Regions from separate parts of the Homo sapiens genome. Here region 2 is linked to region 1. Evidence: fine-mapped expression QTL. A gene starts in region 1. The other region holds a variant in brackets. All regions are shown on one strand. Distances are between the middles of the regions. Region 1 holds the start of CTSE (cathepsin E). Region 2 has its middle 6.6 kb from the start of RHEX.

Region 1 (11,680 bases):
TTAGTAATGTTTGCTATTATCAGAGTAGAGTTCTCGCACATTTTTTGTTAAATTTACATCAAAGTAGCTGATGGTTTTGATAGTATTATAAATAGTGTCATTAAAAATCTATTTGCCATTTGTTTTACTTGCTACAGGTTGAGCATCACAAATCTGAAAATCTGAAACTGAAGTGCTTCAAAATCCAAAACTTTTTGAGTGCCAACATGAGGCTCAAAGAAAATGCTCATTGGAGCATTACAGATTATGGATTTTCAGATTTGGGATACTAAACTGGTAAGTATAATGCAAATATTTCAAAATCTGAAAAAATTTGAAATCTAAAAGGCTTCCGGTCCCAAGCATTTGGGATAAGGATCCATAACCTGTATATATAAATCCAAATGATTTTTTTTGAGACAGAGTCTCACTCTGTCACTCAGGCTGGAGTGCCATGGCATGATCTTGGCTCACTGCAACCTCCACCTCCTGGGTTCAAGCAGTTCTTCTGCCTCAGCCTCCTGAGTAGCTGGGACTACAGGCGTGTGCCACCACGCCTGGCTAATTTTTGTATTTTTAGTAGAGAAATGTTGGTCAGGCTGGTCTCAAACTCCTGACCTCATGATCCACCTGCCTCGGCCTCCCAAAGTGCTGGGATTACAGGCGTGAGCCACTGTGCCTGGCCCCAGATGATTTTTTTTATGTTGACCTCATATCCAGCAACTTCGCTAAGTTCACATATTAATCCCAATATCCTTTCTGTAGATATTTTTGGATTTTCTACTTATGGAATCTTGTCATACATTAATATTGACAGAGTTATTTCTTCCTTTTCCATCTTAATGTTCTTTATTTCTTTTTTCTTGCCTTGTTGCACTGGCTAGGATTTTCAGTACAATGTTGAATAGAAGTGGTGAGATTGAGTGTCCTTGTCTCATTCTTGATCTTATGGAGAAGTCTCTCGACAATTCACCATTAAGTATAAAGTTTGCTGTGGGCTTCTTTTAGATGAAGTCCTTCATTTTTATCAGATTAAGGGAGTTACTTTCTACTCCTAGTTTGCTAAGAGTTTTTCTTGAAGTCATGAATAGATATTGAATGTTATTAACCTACTAATATAATCATATTGGTCATATGATTTTTCTCCTTTTATTCTGTTAAATGATAAATTCCTGGAAAGATGACCCTTGGTATGATCTTTTTATATACCAAAAGATTTTATTTGCTAGTATTTCATTTAGAACTTTTGCATCTATATTCATGAGAGAAGAGATTGGTCTGTAATTTTATATTTTCTTTTGTTATAATGTCCTTTTCAAGTTTCATTATTAAAGTTATGCTGGTTTCATAAAATGAGTTATAAAGTGTTTTTACTTTGTCAAATATCTGGAAGAGTTTGTGAAAGACTGATTTTTTTTAGTGTTGAGAGAATTTATCAGTGAGGCTTTTCTTCGTGGAGTTTTCTTTGTGGAAAGATTTTTTAATAACAGAGTATATCTTTAAAAGATTCACATTTTCTATTTTTTGTTTTTGCATCAGTTTTGGTATGCTGTATTTCTCAAGGCATTTGTTGATTTTCTGAAAATTGTAAAATTTATCAATATAAAATTATTCTTGATAACTTTACTAATGTTCTCTTTCTCATTTCTAACATTGTTAAGTTGTATTTTCTTTCTTTTTTCTTATTTAGTCATGTGAGAGGCTAACCAATTTTATTACTCTTTGCAAAGAGTTCATTCTTGGCTTTGTTAATTTTCTGTACTGTGTGATTTCTCTATTTCATTTGTGTCCCATTCTACTCTTTATTATTTCCTTCCTTTTGATTTCTTTGGGTTTGATTTGCTATTGTTTGTTTACGGTTTGCTCATTTTCTTGTTATTCATTTCTTGAAATAGGAGCTTAGATAATTGATCATTAGCATTTCTATTAACAACGCATGCATTTTAGGCTAAATGGTCCCTTTAAGGGCTGCATCAGCTTCATCTACAAATTTTCACATGTCATATCTTTATTATGTCAGTCAGGGTTTGATAAGAGAAGCAGAACCATTAGGAGGTACTATAGATTATAGATATAGCTATAATGATGTGGATATAGATATTGATTATATGCAACTGTGGGTGCTAGTTAAACAGTGTACTTTAGGATACTGTTTCTGTCCTGATGCTGCAGCAGCAGTCTACAGTTTGCACAGCAGAAAGGGAAGATAGATGTCAAGTGGGAGAAAAAGGGCCAGTTGGAACCCATGAGGGTGAGGGTGGACTGGAACCCACATTGTTCTCTCACTGTCCCCAAGTCTCCAGCCTCAATGATGGGGATGTTATGCAGCAAAAGCTGATGATTTGTTAGAGGTAAGTGCACACCTGGTCCTGGAGCCAGAAAAACTGAGGGAAGGAGCAATGCAGCTGACATTGCTGTGGGCTTGGCTGCTGCCCTACACCAGCCAGGTGAGCCAACAGATACGTGACAAGCTATAGGCTTGAATTCCCCTTTCTATGCTAATTTCAGTCCCTTCCCTGCATCTCAGAGGTTACTGTGATGATCAGTTAGGGATGTAGCCTTCAAAATAGTCATTTTAACTTTTATATATATATTATATGTAATTAGATATATAATATATATGTATATGTCATAATATATATAGAATCTTATATATAACATAATATATACACATTACATATATATTGTGTTAATCTATTATATAATAGATTAACATATTATGTAATATATTATGTTAATCTATTATATAATAGGTTAATCTATTATATAATAGATTAACATAATATATTATGTAATATATTATTACATACAACATATTAATATATTATATAACACATACTATATTATTAATATAATACATTATATCAATTATATTCTATAATATATTATATATTATATAACATATATTAATGTAATGTATTACATATTATATTAATTATATAATATATAACATGTATTATATGATATAATTATGCAATTATTATATACTTTAATATGTTACATATTGTATCTATATAATATATACAGATGGATATATATTATATATACAAATATACTGTATATTACATATATTCATATATGGATATTATATATTATATATTATATATGTAATGTGTGTATACACACGCATACATAGTTCCAATAGAAAATACAGTACATTGTTTTATCTGTATGATATTTTTACATAGATGGTGTTTTTCTGCTTCTGGCATTCTTTCAGTTGATAATATGTCCTACTCCACCCACTCTAAGGGATGTTGATGAAGGCTGTGCCCTGCTGGCCTCGGGAATACCCCAGGGACCAACGTTCACCAGGAGTAGGTCAACCTCTCTTTCTCCCAAGGCCCAGGCATATATTGCTGTCTATAAGCCTGAAAAAGTACCTGGCTCTCTGTCCCCACATTTGTCTGATTCCCATAGTTCTAGGACCCATAGGACTTCAGAGGGAGTCAGAGGGTCAGAGGTCAGAGGGAGTTTGAGGAACAGCTCATGAGCTCAGCACTGAGTTCAGTTTGGACCTTGGCCTTTGGACAACTGGGCTTCTGCCTTGCCTCTGTGATTGGACTCCCATTTCAGACCTTGCCCCCTTATGTTACTGAGTCCAAATCTCTCCCCCTGGTGTGGACTTCTTTATCCTTCAAGACGGAGACGTGGTTTTATCTCCTCAATGCCCTAGAGACTGGAGATCCAGCTGTGCACCCTGCCACCAGGCTTTGTGCACTGGGCACTGCTTCCTGCCAGAGTCCCCCTGTGCTGCTCTCCCCCAGGGCCCAGCGTGCTGTGGAGACTGACCCACTGCCACCATCTCAGGTGGGGAGTGTTGCTTGCCCTTTCTCCTAGAAGTTAGTGCTAACCCCTGTTTCCACCCATTCCTGAGGCAGATTTGAAATGTAAGACCTCTGAATAAGTCTCCCAAGTTTCTGTCCAAGAGAGAAAAAATGAAGGACTTGCACTCACAGAGACTTGGTCGGCTCCAATGATCCCGGACAAGCTCCCGGTTCCATACTGAATGGAGAAAGATTGACCTGGCTGGCTGTATGTGCTGGACTGGGAAGGCTGGAACCTGCTGTGCGTCTCTGGAAAGAAGTGCACTGCTCTTGCTTATGCCATCGGCTCACTGGCTGCATCCCTGCCCTAATGCCACCCAGCCCCACAGCGGCAGGGTCTCTTCCCTCAGCTCTCAACACTGAGTGGGGGCCCCTAGAAGCCTGGTGATGCCCCTCCCTAATGAACAACTACATTTCCCTCTAGCTACAGATGTGGCCTAACTGGGGACCAAATAGCTATCCCTGAGCAAACCTGATTGTCCACAATGACCTCATGAGGCACACCAAGATAAGTGTCATTTATCAGGCGCCAGCCACAGTCCCTGCCACCCATTGTGGGTCAGAGGTTGGCTTCAAAAGAAACTCAGGGATAAACAATTGCCCCAGGAAATTACTCCCAACTTTTCTCCCAACCGATGGACATCTCTAGCCTTGGGGTTTCCAGAGACATTCTGTCTCTGGGACTTGTCCTGTATCGAACAAGACATCTTTCTGTAGCTCTTCTTTTCCAATCCTCACTGAAACTTCTGAGTTACCTCTGGACAAATGGACCCACCCATGCCATTGTGCCCCACCAGCCCCACCTGTGTGCACCAGGAGATAAGGCTACCAAGCCTCCTTGAAACAAGCAGACTATCTACACTAGAACCCGACTCACCTCCCTGCTCAGAAATAACCAATTAAATTAAACTTCCCCTACATTCCTTTGGGTGTTCCAAAGGAAGTGAGTCATTATGTCAAAGATTTCTCTTTTCAATGGCTTTCTTTCTATTAATTCTGATCAGTATGAAAGTTACTCTCTTGGACAGCAGCCACATTTTAGTTCTTCCTTGGCTTTGCTCTATCTCTGCTATAAGCAGTTCCACGGCTGACTCAAAGATGGAGAGTGGAAGCTGGTGTGGCAGGGATGGCCAGTTTCTGGAACCTAAGCCCCCCTTCCCCAGAGTACCAGGCTTGGCCTCCCAGGACTAGCCCCCAGACATTCTCTGCTGGTGCTCCTGGCCCCACTTACTGCAGGCTGGGCTAGTGCAGTACACAGAGGGGACCCAGAGGTTGGAGGAGCCAGTGTCGAAGATGACAGTGAAGTTCTGTGGTGGGGAGCCAATGGAGATAGTGCCGAAGTATTCCATCTGCAAGGAAGAGTGAGAAGGAAAGAGGGTGTGGGTGGTGGGGAGGGACAAGGGTGCTCACCAGGAAGCCAGGGGAAAGCTCCCAGGGGCCAGAGCCTGGGGTAATACAGACTGGAGTTTACAGAGCCTAGGAAGTGGCAACGCTGGAAAATAAAAGGTAAAAGGAGCAGAGAAATGGCCATGAAGGAGGAAATCAAACCAAGCCTCTGGCTACTTCATTTGATTTTACTTGCACTAACCTGATTCTTATAAATACATTGTAGGAGAGGCAGTGGAGGAAGAACCATCTGTTTTACAGACCAGGGAACTGGGGCTGGGAGAGGTTAAGTAACTTGCCTAAGGGTACACAGCCAGTAAGCTGCCCAGCTGAGAGCAGAAGCAGGGGCCTTCAGTGTGGGATGATGCTTTCACTCCCAGCCCTTTCCTTCTGCAGAGAACTCTGACATTTGGGTACATGGGGGCCTGCTTAGCCAACTCCATGGGGACCCAGGGAATCAGTCCCCATGGATCATCATCCAAGTGAAGAAATCCACAATGGCCTTCGGTGCTACTGATGTGGCACTGGCCATGCCCTAATGCTGGGCCTTCCTCCCGCTCCCACCTCTCCCCAGCCCTGACCCCAGGAGGCCTCACATCCAAGTAGTTGATGAGGGGTTCCTTGGCACTCTGGTCCATTGAGCAGGACTCGGTGAACTGGATCATGTCCAAATTATGGGATTTCCAGAACTCAGAGAGCTGGCTCCGTGCCCGCAGCTTCTTCTTGAGGGACGGATGCCTCCTGAGGGGCACCCTGGAGACAAACCCCCATGTAAGCAGGAGATGTACTTCTGCCTCCCTCTTCCCCCCATTCTCGTCCCATTTTCTCAGGGGCCAACTAGAGAAGATGGGGTGGGAGGGGGGGATCTGCAAGACAGCACGCAGGATACAGGTGGGATCAGCGTCCTCTCTGCCACTCAGCCTGCCCGGCCTCATCTCTGCCCTATAGAGTCTTAGAATCTTAGAGTGGAAATGGCTCCCCTCCTGGAGCTGAGGTCTTTGAGATCTAGGAAAATGGGAGATGTGGGGCGGTCTACAGTTTTACATGAACATCACGAAGGGCTGATTTAAAGGGACAGAAAAACTCTTGGGGACAGTGATGGTCAGTCCCCTGGGGAAGTCCTGGGGCGCTTTGAGCTACAAACCACAACTGCAGGTTCCTGCTCTTTTGCAACACAAGAAGACCCCTGGGACTTGGGAAGGCACCTCCGTGGAGGTGGAGGCAGGAGGATGACTTGTTGAGGACTGGAGATTAAGGCCATACACAGGCGGTCACTGGATGAGTCTCTTCCATGCATTGACGCAAGCCCTCAGCTTCTCCTCCTCTTCACCTCCCCATCAGCTTTCCTACCCCAGAGCAGCCCTGAGTTGCAGGGCATGGGACTACCCAGCTGAACACAGTGCGGGGACGTCTTCTCACCTGTGAAGGGATCCTTGGGCCTCTCCCAGCTCCAGGAGCACCAGCAGCAAAAGAAGGAGCGTTTTCATTGTGAGTCCGACCAGCAGCTTCTCCCTTGCCCCCTCCTTTCTTCTCTCCCCGAGGGCAGTGGGAACGGACTTTCCCTAACTCTCAGACCTGCCCAGCCCAGTCTGAGGGCCGAATGATAAGGCCCTGGAGTCATTAGCCATGCCCAGAGTAAATACGGCATGTGGAACAGGGCGTTCCCCCTGCACCTCTCCGTCCCTTTCCCACCTACAAGAGGAATATGAGTCTGCGGGGAGAACTTGGGAGTCCTCTGGGGCTTGGCTTCTCTCAGGGCTTTGGCACCTCCTCTGACCCCAAGAAACCCTGTTAATGAATCCGGAGGGCAGCACATGCCTGGCTGCCTGGAAAGGCCCACTGAACTCTTACTGCAAGTGCTCTAGCTGGAGACTCTGGAGGGGTGGGAGCTGACTTGTCATGGGTGGCAGGATTCTAACTCAAAATATTCGTCAGTCTGTTTTCTGGGTGATTCCTGTTCTCTCCTCAATCTCTCAAATGCTCCAAAGGCAGTTTATCCTTCCCTGGCCCACTTTGAAGCACAAACCAGCACTCCTCAAAGGCCCTGAAATGGGAAAATGTAGCTGCAGATTTATGGAGCCCACTCTCCTGACTCTAAGGACTTGATGAATCTGGGGCTGGGGCTCAGGGGTGTGTGGAGGAGAATGCAGGGGCAGCGAGGGAGGGTCAAGGGGGTCAGCGTCTACAGCAAGTGCCCGCATGAGTCTACTAAAGCGGCCATGACAAAGTACAGGGGGCTTAAACAACAGAAATTTATTTTCTCACTATTCTGGAGGCTGGAAGTCCAAGATCAAGGTGTTGGCAGACTTGGTTGCTTCGGAGGCCTCTCTCCTTGGCTTGCAGATGGCTGCCTTCTCTCTGTGTCTTCACATGGGTCTTCCCTCAGCGTGTGGCTGTGTCCACATCCACATTTCCTCTTCTTATAAGGACGCTAGTCATATTGGAGTAGGGCCCACCCTAATGACTGCGTTTACCCTTAATACCTCTTTAAAGACCCTATCTCCAAATACAGTCACGTTCTGAGGTACTAGGTGTTAGGACATCAACATGGATTTTGGAGGACAAAGTTCAGCCCTTAACAGTGCTCAGGGACAATAGGATCTTCTATCTGTCAAGTGGGACTAAGCGCAGGGGTGGAGAGTGGGTGGGGCTCAGGCCTTAGTTACCGCAGTGTGTGAAACCCCCTCACCATCAGCCTATCTCTGTGGCCACCCGCCTCATAAACAGATGGTGGGGCTTCAGTGCCTGGGGTGGGGATGAAGGGGTTACAGGTAGGAAGACCCTGACCCTGACTCAAGTTAGCCAGGGCAGCAGAGGCCACCACCATATGCCAATGCTTCCAGAGGGCACTAGCTCAGCAGTAGGAAGTAGATGGCCTGCGTTTAGGTTTAGCTCTGCCCTGACCAGCTAGTGTTCTGGAAAATCTCTTAAGTGCTATGGGATCTGCCTTTCATCTCTGAAGTTCAAATGGCAAGCAAACGTGGAGTATGGAGCTAAGCCAAACCCACCCTTGGGTCCAAAAATGTTAAAAAAAGACATCAAAAAGACTTAAGGAACAGCCTAGACCTTTGACCCCTGAACCCAAGGCAACAAAGCCTCTTTGGCATTTCCCAGGAGCCCGTCTTGTTGATCTTTCACTGGGGAGAGTGGTCTAAACCTAGAAGGGCAGCTTGAGTCAGAAGTGGCTAGAAGTGGAGATCATTCATTTTGGCAGTAAACTCTGCCATGTTTTGCCCGTAACTGCTTATTCACCACATACCTTAGTTTTGTCATCTGCCAAATACCTTACCTACATCAATGGGTTTTTAAGGAGGATTAAACAAACAAAATAAGGTACAGATATACTTGTTGTACTGCACTCTGCTTTACTGCACTTTGCAGATACTGCTTTTTTTTTTTAATTGAAGGTTTGTGGCAAACCTGTGTCAAGCAAGTCTATCAGCACCATTTTTCCAATACTGTGTGTTCATTTTGTGTCTCTGTGCCACATTTTGGTAATTCTTGCAATATTTCAAAGTTTTTCATGATTATTTTATCTGTTTTGGTGATCTGTACTCAGTGATCTTTGATGTTACTGTTGTAATTGTTTTGGGGTACCACAAACTGCACCCGTGTAAGACAGAGAATTTAATAAGTGTAATTGTGTGTTCTGATTGCTCCATTGCTCTACTAACTGGTCATTCCCCCATCTCTCTCTCTCCCTCTCTTTCTCTCCCCCTCGGGCCTTCCTGTTGCCTGAGACACAACAATATTGAAATTAGGCCAATTAATAATTCTACAGTGACCTCTAAGTGTTTAAGTGAGAGGAAGATTTGCATGTTCCTCATTTTAAATTCAAAGCTAGAAATTATTAAGCCTAGTGAGGAAGCCATGTTGAAAGCCAAGAAGGGCTGAAAGCTAGACCTCTTACACCAAACAGTTACCCAAGTCATGAATGCAAAGAAAAAGTTCTTAAGGGAAATTGAAGGTGATATTACAGGGAACACACAAATGATAAGAAAGCAAAATAGTTTTCTTGCTGATATGGAGAAAGTGTTATTGGTCTGGATAGAAGATCAAAGCAGTGACAACACTCCCTTAAGTCAAAGCCAAATCCAGAGCAAGGCCCTAACACTCTTCAGTTCTATGAAGGCAGAGAGAGGTGAGGAAGCTGCAGAAGAAAACGTGAAGCCTATGGAGATTTCTGCAAGGTGAAGCAGAAAGTCCCAAAGCAGAAGCTGCAGCAAGTTATCCAGAAGATCTAGCTAAGATCATTGATGAAGGTGGCTACAATGAACAACAGATTTTTAGTATAGACAAAATAGCCTCATACTGGAAGAAGATACCATCTAGGACTTTCATACTAGAGAGAAGTCAATGCCTGGATTCAAATCTTCAAAGAACAGGCTGAATCTTTTGTTAGGGGATAATGCAGCTGGTGACTTTAAGTTGAAGCCAATGCTCATTTGCCCATTCTGAAAATCCTAGGGCCCTAAAAAACTATGCTAAATAGAGTTTGTTTGTGCTGTATCAGTGGAACAACATAGCCCTGGATGACAGTACATTGGTTTACAGCATGGTTTACTGGATATTTTAAGCTTGCTGTTGAGACCTACTGCTCAGAAAAAAAAAAATTCTTTTCAAAATTTTACTGCTCATTGACAATGCAACTCATTGCCAAAGAGCTCTGATGGAGATTTATAAGGAGATAAATGTTTTTATGCCTGCTAACCCAATATTCATTCTGCAGCCCCTGGATCAAGGAATAATTTTGACTTTCAAGTCTCATTATTTAAGAAATGCATTTTGTAAAGCTATAGCCACCATAGATAGTGATTCTGATGGATCTGGGCAAAGTAAATGGAAATCTTCCGGAAAGGATTTACCATTCTAGATGCCATTATGATTATTCATGATTCATGGGAGATCAAACTATAAAATTAAAAGGAGTTTGGAAGAAGTTGATTCCAATCCTCATGGATAACTTTAAGGGGTTCAAGACTTCAGTGGAGAAAGTAACTGTAGATGTGGTGGGAATAGCAAGAGAACTAGAAGTGGAGCCTGAAGGTGTGACTGAATTGCTGCAACCTCATGATCAAACTTGGATGGATGAGAAGTTGCTTCTTATGGATGAGTAAAGGATGTGGTTTCTTGAGATGGAATGTATTCCTGGTGAAGATGCTGTGAACACTGTTGAAATGCCAACAAAAGATTATGAATATTGCATTAACTTGGTTGATAGCAGTAGTAGGGTTTGAGAAGATTACTCCAGTTTTGAAAGAAGTTCTACTGTGAGTAAAATGCTATCAAACAGCATCATATGCTACAGGGAAATCTTCAAGAAAGGAAGAGTCAATCTATGTGGCAAACTTCATTGTTTTCTTAGTTTAAGAACTGGGCGCTGTGGCTCGTGCCTGTAATCCCAGTATTTTGGGAGGCCGAGGCGGGCAGATCACCTGAGGTCGGGAGTTTGAGACCAGCCTGACCAACATGGAGAAACCCCATCTCTACTAAAAATACAAAACACCTGGGTGTGGTGGTGCATGCCTGTAATGCCAGCTACTCAGGAGGCTGAGGCAGGAGTATTAATTGAACCTGGGAGGCGGAGGTTGCAGAGAGCCGAGATCCTGCCACTGCACTCCAGCCTGGGCAACAAGAGTGAAACTCCATCTCAAAAAAAAGAAAGAAAGAAAGAAAGAAATTGTCATGGCCACCCCAAACCTGGAGCAACTACCACCTTGATCAGTCAGCAGCCATTAATGTCCAGGCAAGACCTCCGCCAGCAAAAAGGTTATGACTCCCTGAAGGCTCAGATGATTGTTAACATTTTTAGCAATAAAGCATGTTTTAATTAAGATGTTTTTAGACATAATGCTATTGCACACTTAATAGACTACAGTACAGGGTAAACACAACTTTTGCATGCATTTTGAAACCAAAAAACTTGTGTGATTGACTTTATTGCAATTTTCACTTTATTGCAGTAGTCTGGAACCAAACCCACAGTAGCTCCAAATGATGCTTGCATGTGGAAGTTCTTGAAAAACTGTAACATGTCATGTGAACTAAAGATTGTCACTAAAAACTTCAGTGTTTCAGAAGTGCTGGAAGGGTTCTTACAGACTCTCAAGACAAACCCACTTGTATAGCAGAATGAGAAAACTGAGGCAGAGAGGCAAAGTGATCAGCCCAAGAGCACATGGTTCATTTAGTGGCTGATCTAGGATTAGGACTCAGCCCTCCTGACTTCTAAGCGGGCAAACTTTCTGCTACAGAATTATAGCATCATTATCACTGAACTGTTGAAAGGGGGCTAACCATAACCCCTCCCTCCTTTTCCATCTTTTAGACCTCTCCCTGCATCCCTCTTGCCCCTGTTTACTAAATGTAGAGAGTTTGCCTGGCCCAGGCTTGAGAAAAAGCTGACTGGTCCTTGCAGCTGTGGGCCACCTGACTACTGAGTGGAGCAGACACAGCCTCGACTGCCTGCAAGGAGCCCCTGGGTCTAG
Region 2 (11,680 bases), 24 kb after region 1:
CTGGGCAACATAGGAAGCCCTCATCTCTATTTTTTTTTTTTGAGACGGAGTCTCGCCCTGTTGCCCAGGCTGGAGTGCAGTGGCACGATCTGGGCTCACTGCAACCTCAAGGTATCTTGAGGTATCAAGATTGTTTCTGGGTATCAAGGTTGTTTCTCAATTGCTGCTGGTGTAAATGACACAGTAGTTCCCTACTTTACCCCCTGGATCTTTGCACACATTTTCTTAATTATGTCATTGGGATTAATTCCTCTAAGTGGAGTTGCTGAGTCTAAGGAGTATGGACATTTTCATTGCTTTTTTTTTTTTTTTTTGAAACGGAGTTTTGCTCTGTTGTTGCCCAGGCTGGAGTATAATGGCGCGATCTGGGCTCACTTCAACCTTCACCTCCCGGGTTCAAGCAATTCTCCTGCCTCAGCCTCCTGAGTAGCTGGGATTACAGGTGTGCACCACCACACTCAGCTAATTTTTGAATTTGTAGTAGAGACGGGGTTTCACCATGTTGGCCAGGCTGGTCTCAAACTCCTGACCTCATGATCTGCCTGCCTCAGCCTCCCAAAGTGCTGGGATTACAGGCGTGAGCCACTGTGCCTGGCCTTCATTGCTTTTTGATACCCACCACCAAATTGCCCTTCAGAGAGATGGTAACAATTTGCCTTCTTGCTAGAAAGTGTCTGTCTGCAGAACACTTCACTGGGCTGAGCATTTTAATTATTTTTTAAAAATAGTTTCAAATTGTTTTAACTTAATTTATTTGGTTTTTAGAGTTGGAACTTCTTTAAAGACATAGATAAATTTGGCCATCTTCATGTGTCTTTCTCCCAATAACAGCATTACAGAGCATCAGTTAGGTGCAGAGACTGGGCAGTGCACCCGTGTGCAAAGACAGGAGACACGAATCTTCCCTGAAGGAGTGACAGTCTAGGGAGGAAGGCAGACTGCAGGTGAGGTAACAGGTAACAGCTCTGTGTGAGGAATGCTATGATTGCAGGCACTGTGTGGGAGCCTCTTGCAGCCCTCCCGTGAGGGAGGGGGAGGCAGGGTTGGGGCGGAGTGTGCACAGGCAAGAACAAGCCTGGGGCACCGAGAAACTGCCAGAAGCCCAGGCTGGCTGCAGCATAAAGTGTAAGAGAGCACGGCTGGGAGGTGGGCAGGACTCAGATCATGGCAGGCCTTTCATGCCTGAGTAGGCAACCACTGTCAGGCAGGTTCACACACAGTAATCACATGCACGAGGTAACATGCGTGGAAGAGAACAGATGCTTTGCTAGCTGTCCTCTTGCCGCAGTCACTTTTTAACTAATCACTAAAAGGTGCTGGGTTACTATTGACCCCTACAGCACCTGTGTGGGATAAGGAAGGGGTACCCCAATGAAACAAACACAAGTTGGTTCTATATGAATTATATATATAAAATTATTAAATCCAAGATAATAGAAAATTAGTGTTTTTAGTCACAATACTCAGGATTTGAAAGTCTCTGGGATGTAACAATTCATCATAAGATAGTTTTAGTCATAAAATAATTTTCATGGGGACAACATTTTCTATGTCAATTTTAATGCCTGCTTGTTCCAGTTTTTTTTTTTTTTTTTTTTGAAATGGAGTCTCACTCTGTCACCCAGGCTGGAGTGCAGTGGCGCAATCTCGGCTCACTGCAACCTCCGTCTCTCGGGTTCAAGTGATTCTCCTGCTTCAGCCTCCTGAGTAGCTGGGATTACAGGTGTGCACCACCATGCCCCACTAATTTTTGTATTTTTAGTAGAGATGGTGTTTTACCATGTTGGCCAGGCTGGTCTCGAACTCCTGACCTCAGGTGATCTGCGCCCCCTCGGCTTCCCAAAGTGCTGGGATTATAGGCATGAGCCACTGCACCCGGCTCAGTATCTTATTTTCTATAAAAATGGTCACTAGAATTGATAGTCTTTCTTGTGACATTCTTGATAAGTAGCTTTTTATAATTGTTTTAAAAGTATCTACATTTTCCACTGCTGGCTGATACTACCAAAGTTAATGTATCCTAAGAGCTAGGATGGTTTTAGGAAAATGTGTCTGGTATATTATTACTGAAAATAAATTGAGGCATTTCATGGGAGGCAATTAGATTTTATTAATCTACTTATTTATTTATTTTTTGAGACAGGGTCTTGCTCTGTCACCCAGGCTTGAGTGCAATGGCACGATCATGGCTCACTGCAGCCTCAACCTCCTGGGCTCAAGCAATCCTCTGCTCTCCGCCTCCCAAGTAGCTGGGACTACAGGCATGTACCAACATGCTGGCTAAATTTTGTATAGATACAGTGTTTCACCATGTTACCTAGGCTGGTTTTGAACTTCTGAGCTCAAGCGATCCTCCTGCCTCCCAAAGTGTTGGGATTACAGGTGTGAGCCCAGCCATATCAACTAGATTTTAGAAAGCGACTTCAGGATTTTAGTTCCTCTTACACTAATGCTTCATCAGTATCACTCTTCCTCCTATGTTTCTCAATTTCAATTGTATATTTTTAATGGTTGCAGAAGCTCATATTTGTCATAATTTTTCAATTTATGCATGTCATCTAGAATACTGAAAAGACCTTGAGATATTCTTTATTATAAGCCTCTCTTTTAAAGAGATATTATTGCTTCCAATATAGAAAAAAACTAATTTTGCTATTGACCTTCAGATTGTAGAGGATTACAGGTGTGAGCCACCTCACCCAGACAGGAATTTTTAATATTTTATTCACTATTGGCTTTAAAGAATAGGCAACCTGGCCGGCCGTGGTGGCTCACGCCTGTAATCCTGGCACTTTGGGAGGCTGACGTGGGTGGATTACCTGAGGTCAGGGGTTCGAGACCAGCCTGCCCAACATGGTGAACCGCCATTCTCTACTAAAAATACAGAAGATTAGCCAGGTGCAGTGGCGTGTGCCTGTAATCCCAGCTACTTGGGAGGCTGAGGCAAGAGAATCACTTGAACCTGGGAGGCGGAGATTGCGGTGAGCCGAGATCAGGCCACTGCACTCCAGCCTGGGCGACAGAGCAAGGCAGCCTTAGAATCTTTTGGGGACCTATGCTGAAATCCATTAAGTTTGTCATAAATTTTTTTCATCTTTGTTGTATCTGCTCCCTCAAATCATTATAGCCTATATTCAGTGCTTCTGTTGGTGATGGTTGTGGTCAACCAAAAACCTAAATAATCCTTCTCCAGCTGTATCATTTACTGTAGGGAAAAAAATTAATGTTTACATATAGATATATTTGCATTTTGAAAATGTACAAATCTAAAAATAATTGTCAACTGTTCCACGTGGCTTACATCAGGAAATGTACCTCAAGTTATTTAACTGTGTGATATTTAGCACTTCTTACAAGATTCAAAATAACTTCAGTCAACAAATCTGCTATATTTTAATCATTTGGTTTTGCTTTTCATCTGCTACATAATGTGTAAATGCTATTTGGTGTTTATATATAGTATATAATATTTATATATAGTATATAATATTTGGTATATATTTGGTGTTTATATATAGTATATAATATTTGTACAATAATATACAAGTATATGTTTATATAAACAAATATATATTGTATATATACAAATTATTGCATATTTGAAACATACAATATATATTTGTATACTGCTGTAAATTCTATTAAGCTTCTATGCTTTTCGTAAATGAAGAAAATTCCTGTTATTATACTGCTTATACATTTTTGTAGATGATCCTCTGAATGCTAGATATTGTCTTGCCAAAACAGAATTGAGTTTTTTTGTTCAATGTAATATTTTCCTCATCATATAGAATCTGTTTTGCAGCATTAATAATTATATATTTCTAATCAGATTTGAAATTTGAATACTTAGCATTCCTATTGATGTTTATTTCAGATTCTTCATGTTTACAAAAAAATGTGCCAAGTGCTGTACAATCTTTGCATTCTTTCCCATTTTCCAGCTGATTTTTTGTTCTCAAAGAGCTGGCAAAATACAGAGTCCTTGGAAGTATAATAAAATAATCAGAATCTAGTCATTATTATTTCTCCTCACCATTTGGAAAAAATTTGTGTCCATTATATTTCCAAAAACTTCCAACCTGTATTATCTTTTGTAAAGATAAAAAATTTTTTACTTGAGGTGAATAATTTTCAGCAAGAGTACATCTTTGTTTCCTATTCAAACTACTTGGCCATGTGTTTGAATTCTTTGCATTTTTAAAGCTACTTTTTTTTAGATTCATCGATTATTTCTGACAATGGAACTAAAAGGTAAATTCACATCTCACATTTCTGTGACACATTCACTGAAACAAACAGCCCTAAACTCTCTATTTCTCCCTAAATTTATTCAATAATCCAAATAGTTTTACTTTACTTTCTATCTAGACAGCTTTTCATCTTCTAGTTTTAGTTTGATTTTTTTTTCTTATCAGTATCCTGGGAGAAATAATATTATATTAGCTTATTAAATGTTAAAGAAATATTATTAAGGCCGGGCATGATGACTCATGCCTGTAATCCCAGCACTTTGGGAGGCTGAGGCGGGTGGATCACGAGGCCAGGAGTTCAAGACCAGCCTGACCAACATGGTGAAACCCCATCTCTACTAAAAATACAAAAATTAGCCAGGCGTGGTGGCACATGCTTGTAATCCCAGCTACTCAGGAGGCTGAGGCAGGAGAATAGCTGGAACCCGGGAGGCGGAGGCTGCAGTGAGCTGAGACCATGCCACTGTACTCCAGCCTGGGCATCAGAGCGACACTCTGTCTCAAAAAAAAATATATATATATATATATGTGTATATATCTATATACATAATTAAAACATAATAGTAGTTTATCCTAGAACTTAAAACTTTAAAAAATATATATAATAAGCCATGAAACTTTACCAGCAGTTAGCTTTTCTCCTGAAGAAATTTTCTTTAACAACCCATAAACAATAGCTATGATACAATTCACAATTCATGATATAATAGTCTCTAATTTATGAATATAAAATAATTATTTTATGAATATATAATTGCCTATGATCATTAATTACCACAAAAGTGAGTTATGTAATAATAAAAATCCGTAGATCTAAATTAGGAATTCAGAGCTACCATTCAGGCAGACAATATGAACTGTAATGCAAAACTTCAAATTTAGCCAATACACAAATACTAATACAGGATTTAAAAAAAAATTAGATAAAAATCAAAACAAGAGTTGGAAAACAACTCCTTGTTTGGAAGCACTAGTTATTGTGGCACTCGTTACTTAAACCAATAAGGTCTTTGTCAAACACTCTCTGCTTCAGCTTATGAAGTAAATGTCAACCCTGTTAGAAAATCTATTTCCATCTGAAAGAAAATTGTCATAAAAAAGGATCTTTGTTAGAGAAGACATTTTATTGTTATTTGTCAGAAAACTATTTTAATAAGAATATGTCATCTACCTTTAGAGTTAGCAGTTAAATAAAAAAGTGAAAAAAATTCAACATAATGATGTCTGTGATGTGCATAGTTTCTGTCTTTCTTTTTTTTTTTTTTTGAGACGGAGTTTCACTCTTGTTGCCCAGGCTGGGGTCCAATGGTGCGATCTTGGCTCGCTGCAACCTTCACCTCCCGGGTTCAAGCGATTCTCCTGCCTCAGCCTCCTGAGTAGCTGGGATTACAGGCATGCCCCACCA[C/T]GCCTGGCTAATTTTTTATATTTTTAGTAGAGACAGGGTTTCTCCATGTTGGTCAGGCTAGTCTTGAATTCCCAACCTCAGATTATCTGCCCACCTTGGCCTCCCAAAGTGCTGGGATTACAGGTTGGATAGTTTCTTTAGATGTCATGCCCTTGAGCAATAAACAACCTGAACAACTGTCCTTAGCTACTCCAAAATTTATGTGGTTATTACAGCTAATAAAGATGATATAGAAACAATCTGTGTAGTAAATGAAAGGTAGTTTAAGGGATTTTGAGACCTCTGTTTGGATGCTGGTTTTGTTGTTTGCTAACTGTGACCTGGAGCAATTCACTTATCACTCAGTTACCTCAGCTACAAATGGGGATAAGTATGCCTCATCCTTTAAACTGCTGACCGGAGGTCACACGAGATATCCCCAGTTCTGAGTCGTCAACGAAATCGTAAGATGTGCATAAGGTTTCCATTTTGCACTTGTTAAAAATGTGCTTGCGGCCAGGTGCGGTGGCTCATGCTTGTAATCCCAGCACTTTGAGAGGCCGAGGCCGGTGGATCACTTGAGGTCAGGAATTTGAGACCAGCCTGGCCAACATGGTAAAACCCCGTCTCTACTAAAAATACAAAAATTAGCTGGACATTGTGGTGGGTGCCTGTAATCCCAGCTACTCGAGAGGCTGAGGCAGGAGAATCACTTGAACCCGAGAGGCAGAAGTTGCAGTGAGCCGAGATCACGCCACTGCACTCCAGCCTGGGCGACAGAGTGAGACTCTTGTCTAAATAAACAAATAAGTAAGTAAAATGTGCTTGCTTAAAAAAAATTTTTATTATGTTTTTAAATTGAATGAAGGATATGTGCAGAGCCAGTAAAGGATGGTAATATGGGATCAGTTCCTGTTAAGTCACCTGTGGACAGTTCTGGCTTCACATGTTCACTGGTGCTCTTTTGTAGGAGCCCAAGAGGCTGACAGTTTAATTTTCTTAGGATGCCAAATGTTAAGACACCTGTTTGACGTTTGCAAATAAGCTGCTGTGCAAAATGAAAACCTGATGGTGATCTTTAAAGCAACCCCAACCAATAAATACCTCTGTAATAAACCTCAAGAGGACGCAGGGTTTCTATTTGGAGAAATGAAATTCTGCAAAAGCAACCAGAAAAACATTTAAAGTCCTAGAAATGGTGAGAGTATATGGCTCCACTCGGTTACGGCAGCACATCTGTGGCCAGCCTGAAAAAGAGCAAAGGGAGTGTGTCCAACTTCTCATTCATTCAATGAGCATTTATTGAGGGCTGCTGTGTTCCAGGCACTGGCCTAGAAGCCGGGGAGATAAGTGAAATCAGACATGATCTCAGTCCACTGGGCTCTTGAAGTTCATGAACTGTCTTTCGTGCCCTCTGTCTTCCCAGGTTCTGTTCCTCCCTCCTTCTGCATCCTAGGTGACAGCCTTCCTTTCACCCTCAGGTGTACAATGCTCCCTCTCTTAGCAGTGATTTCAGATGTTCATCGAAGGAAAAATGGCTGGATATTCCAACTGCCATGCCTTCACTACAAGCACCCTCCCATCTGGTATATCCACAGCCTCAGCACTGCCATAGGAATCCTTCCTACACATCCGTGACCACAACAAATGCCACCTCCTCCATGTAGTCTTCCCTCGTCACTAAAGTTAGAAACAACCTGCTCCTCCTTTCTGATCCAATAGCCCTTTCTTTGTACATCTTTTTAGCTTTGATTATACACCTACCTTTTGTTACAGCTGCTATGGTTGCCGCGGATATTTTCCTCGCTAAATTGGGGTGGGGGGTGAGCGTGGGGTAGCACTCTCTGAACCCAGGGCCCGTGTCTCATTCTTCTCTATCCTTGTAAGCTGTCTCACGCTGCTAAGGACATACCATATGCTACAGAGAAGTTTGACTGGATTGGATTTTTTTTTCTTTGATTTTAGCTACCCAGAATCAGATTGATCAATCCCCCTAGTGGCATTCTTACATCATGGGTCCACGAACTGCTCTTATGTTCTATTTATTTCATATTTTTGAGTCTTTGTTCTCCATTTCCCGTCCGCTCCACCCATCCCACCCCACTCCTGTTATAGACACACTCTCTTGTTTTATTAAAGTGTGACCTTCGAATCTATCTTCCATAATGTTATTTGCACACTTGTGTAAGCTTGAGTGATACTTGAGATTGTTGGGATTGAATTTGCCTTTGGCTGAGGGAATGAAACACCTCCACTGGAATTTCAGGCACCAGCACCTGCAAGGAAGTTTTTTGAGGCAGTGGCTCTTGGAATCACAGCAGGAGGTAGTCAGCAGCTTAGTCCAGGGGCGGCGGACTTATCCAGCTTCCTCTTCCGCTTCTTCTGCAGGCTCCCCCAACCTCAGAGCCTCCTTGTTGCCTCATGCCTGGACTTTGCCCCTCTGGTAGAGCCTTTCTACACAGCCGCTGCACTGCCAGCCAGCAGGCTCCGGGGGGAATTCTTGTGTCCAAGCAATTGCTGTCCTCTTGACACATCGCTATTTGAGAACACCCAATCTGTTCCTCCTGAATCTTTTGGCTTGCACCCCTGGATGTAGCATAGCACACTCTTGGCAGATAAGGCAAAATGCTCCTCTCTTGCCCTATGGTGAAGAAATGCCATGGGTCCTTAGATCAGCAATTCTCAAACTCTTTGGCCTCCAGACCCCTGTACACTCTCAAAAAGTACTAAGGAACCCAAAACGCTATTGTTTATGTAGTTTATATCTATTCATATTGACCATATCAGAAATTAAAACTAAGAAAATTTAAAAATATTTATCTAATCCCCTTAGAAAATAGTACCAAAGCCATTACATCTTAAACATAACACTTTTTATGAAATATAACTATTTCCCAAAGCATGAAGAATTTAATGAAAAGAGAAGCACTGTTTTATGCATGTGCAAATCTCATTATTCATACCTAGCTCAATAAAAGACAGCTGAGTTCTCAGGTCTGCCTTTGCACTCAGTCTCATGCCATACCACATGTCACATAGACTTTGGGAAACTCCACTGTATGCTTGAGAGAAACTGAGAGTGAAAAAGGCAACTAGTATCTTAGTATTATTAAGAGAGTGGTTTTGACCTCATGAACCCTCTGAAAAGATCTCTGGAACCCCCAGGGGGTCCCTGGACTACACTTTGAGAACTGCTCCCTAGATCATTGGTTTCTTGATGACAAGGCCTTTTTCTATTCATCCTTACAGACTGGGTTATTTATTTATTTATATTTATTTATTTATTTATTTAAACTGAAAGACCAGTGTAATAGGACAGACTGGGCTTTAAACAGACTATGTAGTTGGCACTCAGTAAACTTTGCCTGAATTGTTTGGAAATGTCTGTGTCATGAGGGTTTATCGCTCCATCATCAGCATCCAGGGACATGCTATACTCACTCTAGTGATGCTGTTATTGCTGAAGGCGTTTGGATTCTCCTTGGAGGTCGGCCTTTAGAGAAATTGGTAGTTCTGTTGAATATCCTCAGTGATGTCATATCTTTGTTCTCTGAGGAGTGCTTTGATTTTTGGAAACAGCCAGAGTGAAATCTGGATTATAATATGAGTAGTCAAATTGGGTAACACTGTATTTTGGATTTGTAAAAAGGAATACTGACTTCCTAAAACTGGGATGGCAGATCTACTTTAATGGCCATTTCTCTAATTTTACACACATATTTACACCTGTGCAAATGATGTTTGTTGCAGTTTAATAATTACATCATCATTTCAAGTGTAAAAAGTGGAAACAATCTAAATTTACTACTAGATGACCAGTTAAATAAACTGTGAGCAACCATAGAACGGAACACTCTGAAGAGGAAGAAAGGAATGAGAAAGTTCTGTATGTATTAATAATAAATTAACTCCTAGATATATTAAGTGAAAAAGCAAAAGGCAAAACAAAGTATGTAGTACACTGTCATGTGTAAGGAAGACGCCTGTATGGTGAGTGTGTTTCTGTGTGTCTGTGTGTTTGCTCATGTACACATAACGTACACAATAAACTGGGCATGCTGGTTTCCTCCAGGGAGGAGAACTAGATGGCTGGGGTCAAGAGCAGATGAGCAGCTTTTCCAGGACTATCCTTTTGTACCTTTTGAATTCTAAAACCATCTGAATGTGACCTAATGAAACAAACACTTCAAAAGTCCCAAACTGAAAAGGTGATGATGTCCTCCCCTTACAAAATTAAAAATAAAAACAATTTTAACACTTAGAAAACCTATTCTCTAAAAGAATTCTCTGTATTTCCTGGCCAATAACACAATTGTTAGAAGAAATGTACAATGTACCAGGTGACATGTGGAAGGGGACAACAGAAGGGGGCAATGACAGGCACTTGTGAAAACATTTGCCTTTTTCTTGATCACGTCTTGTTCCTCTTCTCATCCTTGCTTCATTTCACAAATAGGGGAACTGAGTCCAAGTAAGTGAAGTGACTCATCCGTGCCACCTGGGCTCTTGGTTCCAATGCTTGCCTTGTTAGGGGATTTCCTGACTGCTCCTGCAGCTCTCTTTGCTAGAATGTGGTAAGAGTTGGGGGAGGAGAGGGTGGCAGATCCTCTTTCATTTGGCCTTAAGCACACCTCCCTCTTCGCCTCTCACCCTGAGCAGGGCTGGCGCCTGAGGCCGGTGAACACCTGTGGTGGTGGCTGTGGGACAGCATCTTCCCCTGCTCTTTCTCTTCCTTCTTCCCCTTGGCCACCCACACCCAGGCAGGTGTCCTCCCCAACCCCAGGACACTGCTCTTGGTGTTTCACAGGCACGTGTCCTCTTTTTCTGAAATTGACATTACCCAGTTCAACATCACCTACTTTACCGGAGTACTTTGGGCTCTTTCAAATCAATTTCCGCTTCGAAGGCTAAAGATTTGTCATCAGCTAAGAGGTTCAAAAGTCTGTGGTGTAGGCTCTCCAAAATTCTGGCAGAGGTCAGTTGACCCTGGCTTTTATGAAGGAGTCTTTGGCATTCATTCATTCATTCATTTATTGAAGAAATATGTATTGGACCTATTCATTGCATGAGGCACTTTCTAGACACTGGGGGTGAAATGTTGGCCAAAACAGATAAGGTCTCTGTTCTTATGAAGCTCACATTCATGTGATGAGAGGCTGACAATAATCAAGTAAACAAATAAATGATCAAGGTGACTTCAGATACTAATAGATGAGAGGGCGATGTGACAGATAGGGTCTGGGGAGCCACCTTTGAATTTGTGCTGAATTCTATCTGAAGATGCCTTCACTAAGAGAGAGGTGCTGTCTCCATGGCCTTTGAGGCCCTCCCCTCCAGTGGTGAGATTTTAACAATCTCCCCATCTGACAGGTTCCCATGCAGGAATGAAAGACATGGAAGGGAAGAGGGGGGCCAGCTCCCTGAGTCCTGTGTCCACCAGCTGCTGCTAAATACCTCTGAGAAACTCTGCTTCTATCTAAGGGGACCTACTTCTCTCGGGAATCTCAATACTTGGAACAAGAACCTCCTAGACGGACCCTTTGGCATAATGAATTGGACCAACTGTAGGTTCCAGGACTAGAGAGCCAGCAATGCCTCCATGAACAATCTCACCCAATTACTCTGCTCAGGTAAGACCAACTGAAAACTAGAACAATACAAATGGTGGTTATTCCTGTCTTCTGTTTCTTTGTTTGTTTTTGTGACAGGGTCTTGCTCTGTCACCCAGGCTAGAGTACAATGGTGTGATCATGGCTCACTGCAGCCTCGACTTCCCTAGCTTAAGTGATTCTCCTATCTCAGCCTCTCAAGGAGCTGGGACTACAGGCATGCAGTAGCACACCCAGCTAATTTTCGGATTTTTTTTTTTTAAAGTAGAGACAAGGTCTAGCTATATTGCCCAGGCTGGTCTCAAACTCTTGAGCTCAGGCGGTCCTCCTGCCTTGACTTCCCAAAGTGCTGAGATTATAGGCGTGAGCCACTGGGCCTGGCTCGTTATTACTGTTGAATAATAGTCTGATCACTGAGTTCTTAAACAACTCCA

What was found.
Region 2: its variant is fine-mapped to the expression of CTSE in whole blood (TOPMed, PIP above 0.99).

What each region holds. Positions count from the first base shown.
Region 1 is chr1:206,017,113-206,028,792 of GRCh38, forward strand. CTSE (cathepsin E) reads right to left here and starts at 6,783. Exons shown (of 9, transcript NM_001910.4): 1 at 6,612-6,783; 2 at 5,789-5,945; 3 at 5,038-5,155; 4 at 3,937-4,055. The coding sequence starts at 6,679.
Region 2 is chr1:206,040,735-206,052,414 of GRCh38, forward strand. No RefSeq gene overlaps it. Among named protein-coding and RNA genes, the nearest start is that of RHEX, 6.6 kb to the right of the region's middle. RefSeq lists enhancers at 1,094-1,595, 6,849-7,018, 8,748-8,817, 9,972-10,471. The variant C/T (reference allele first, on the strand shown) is at 5,659.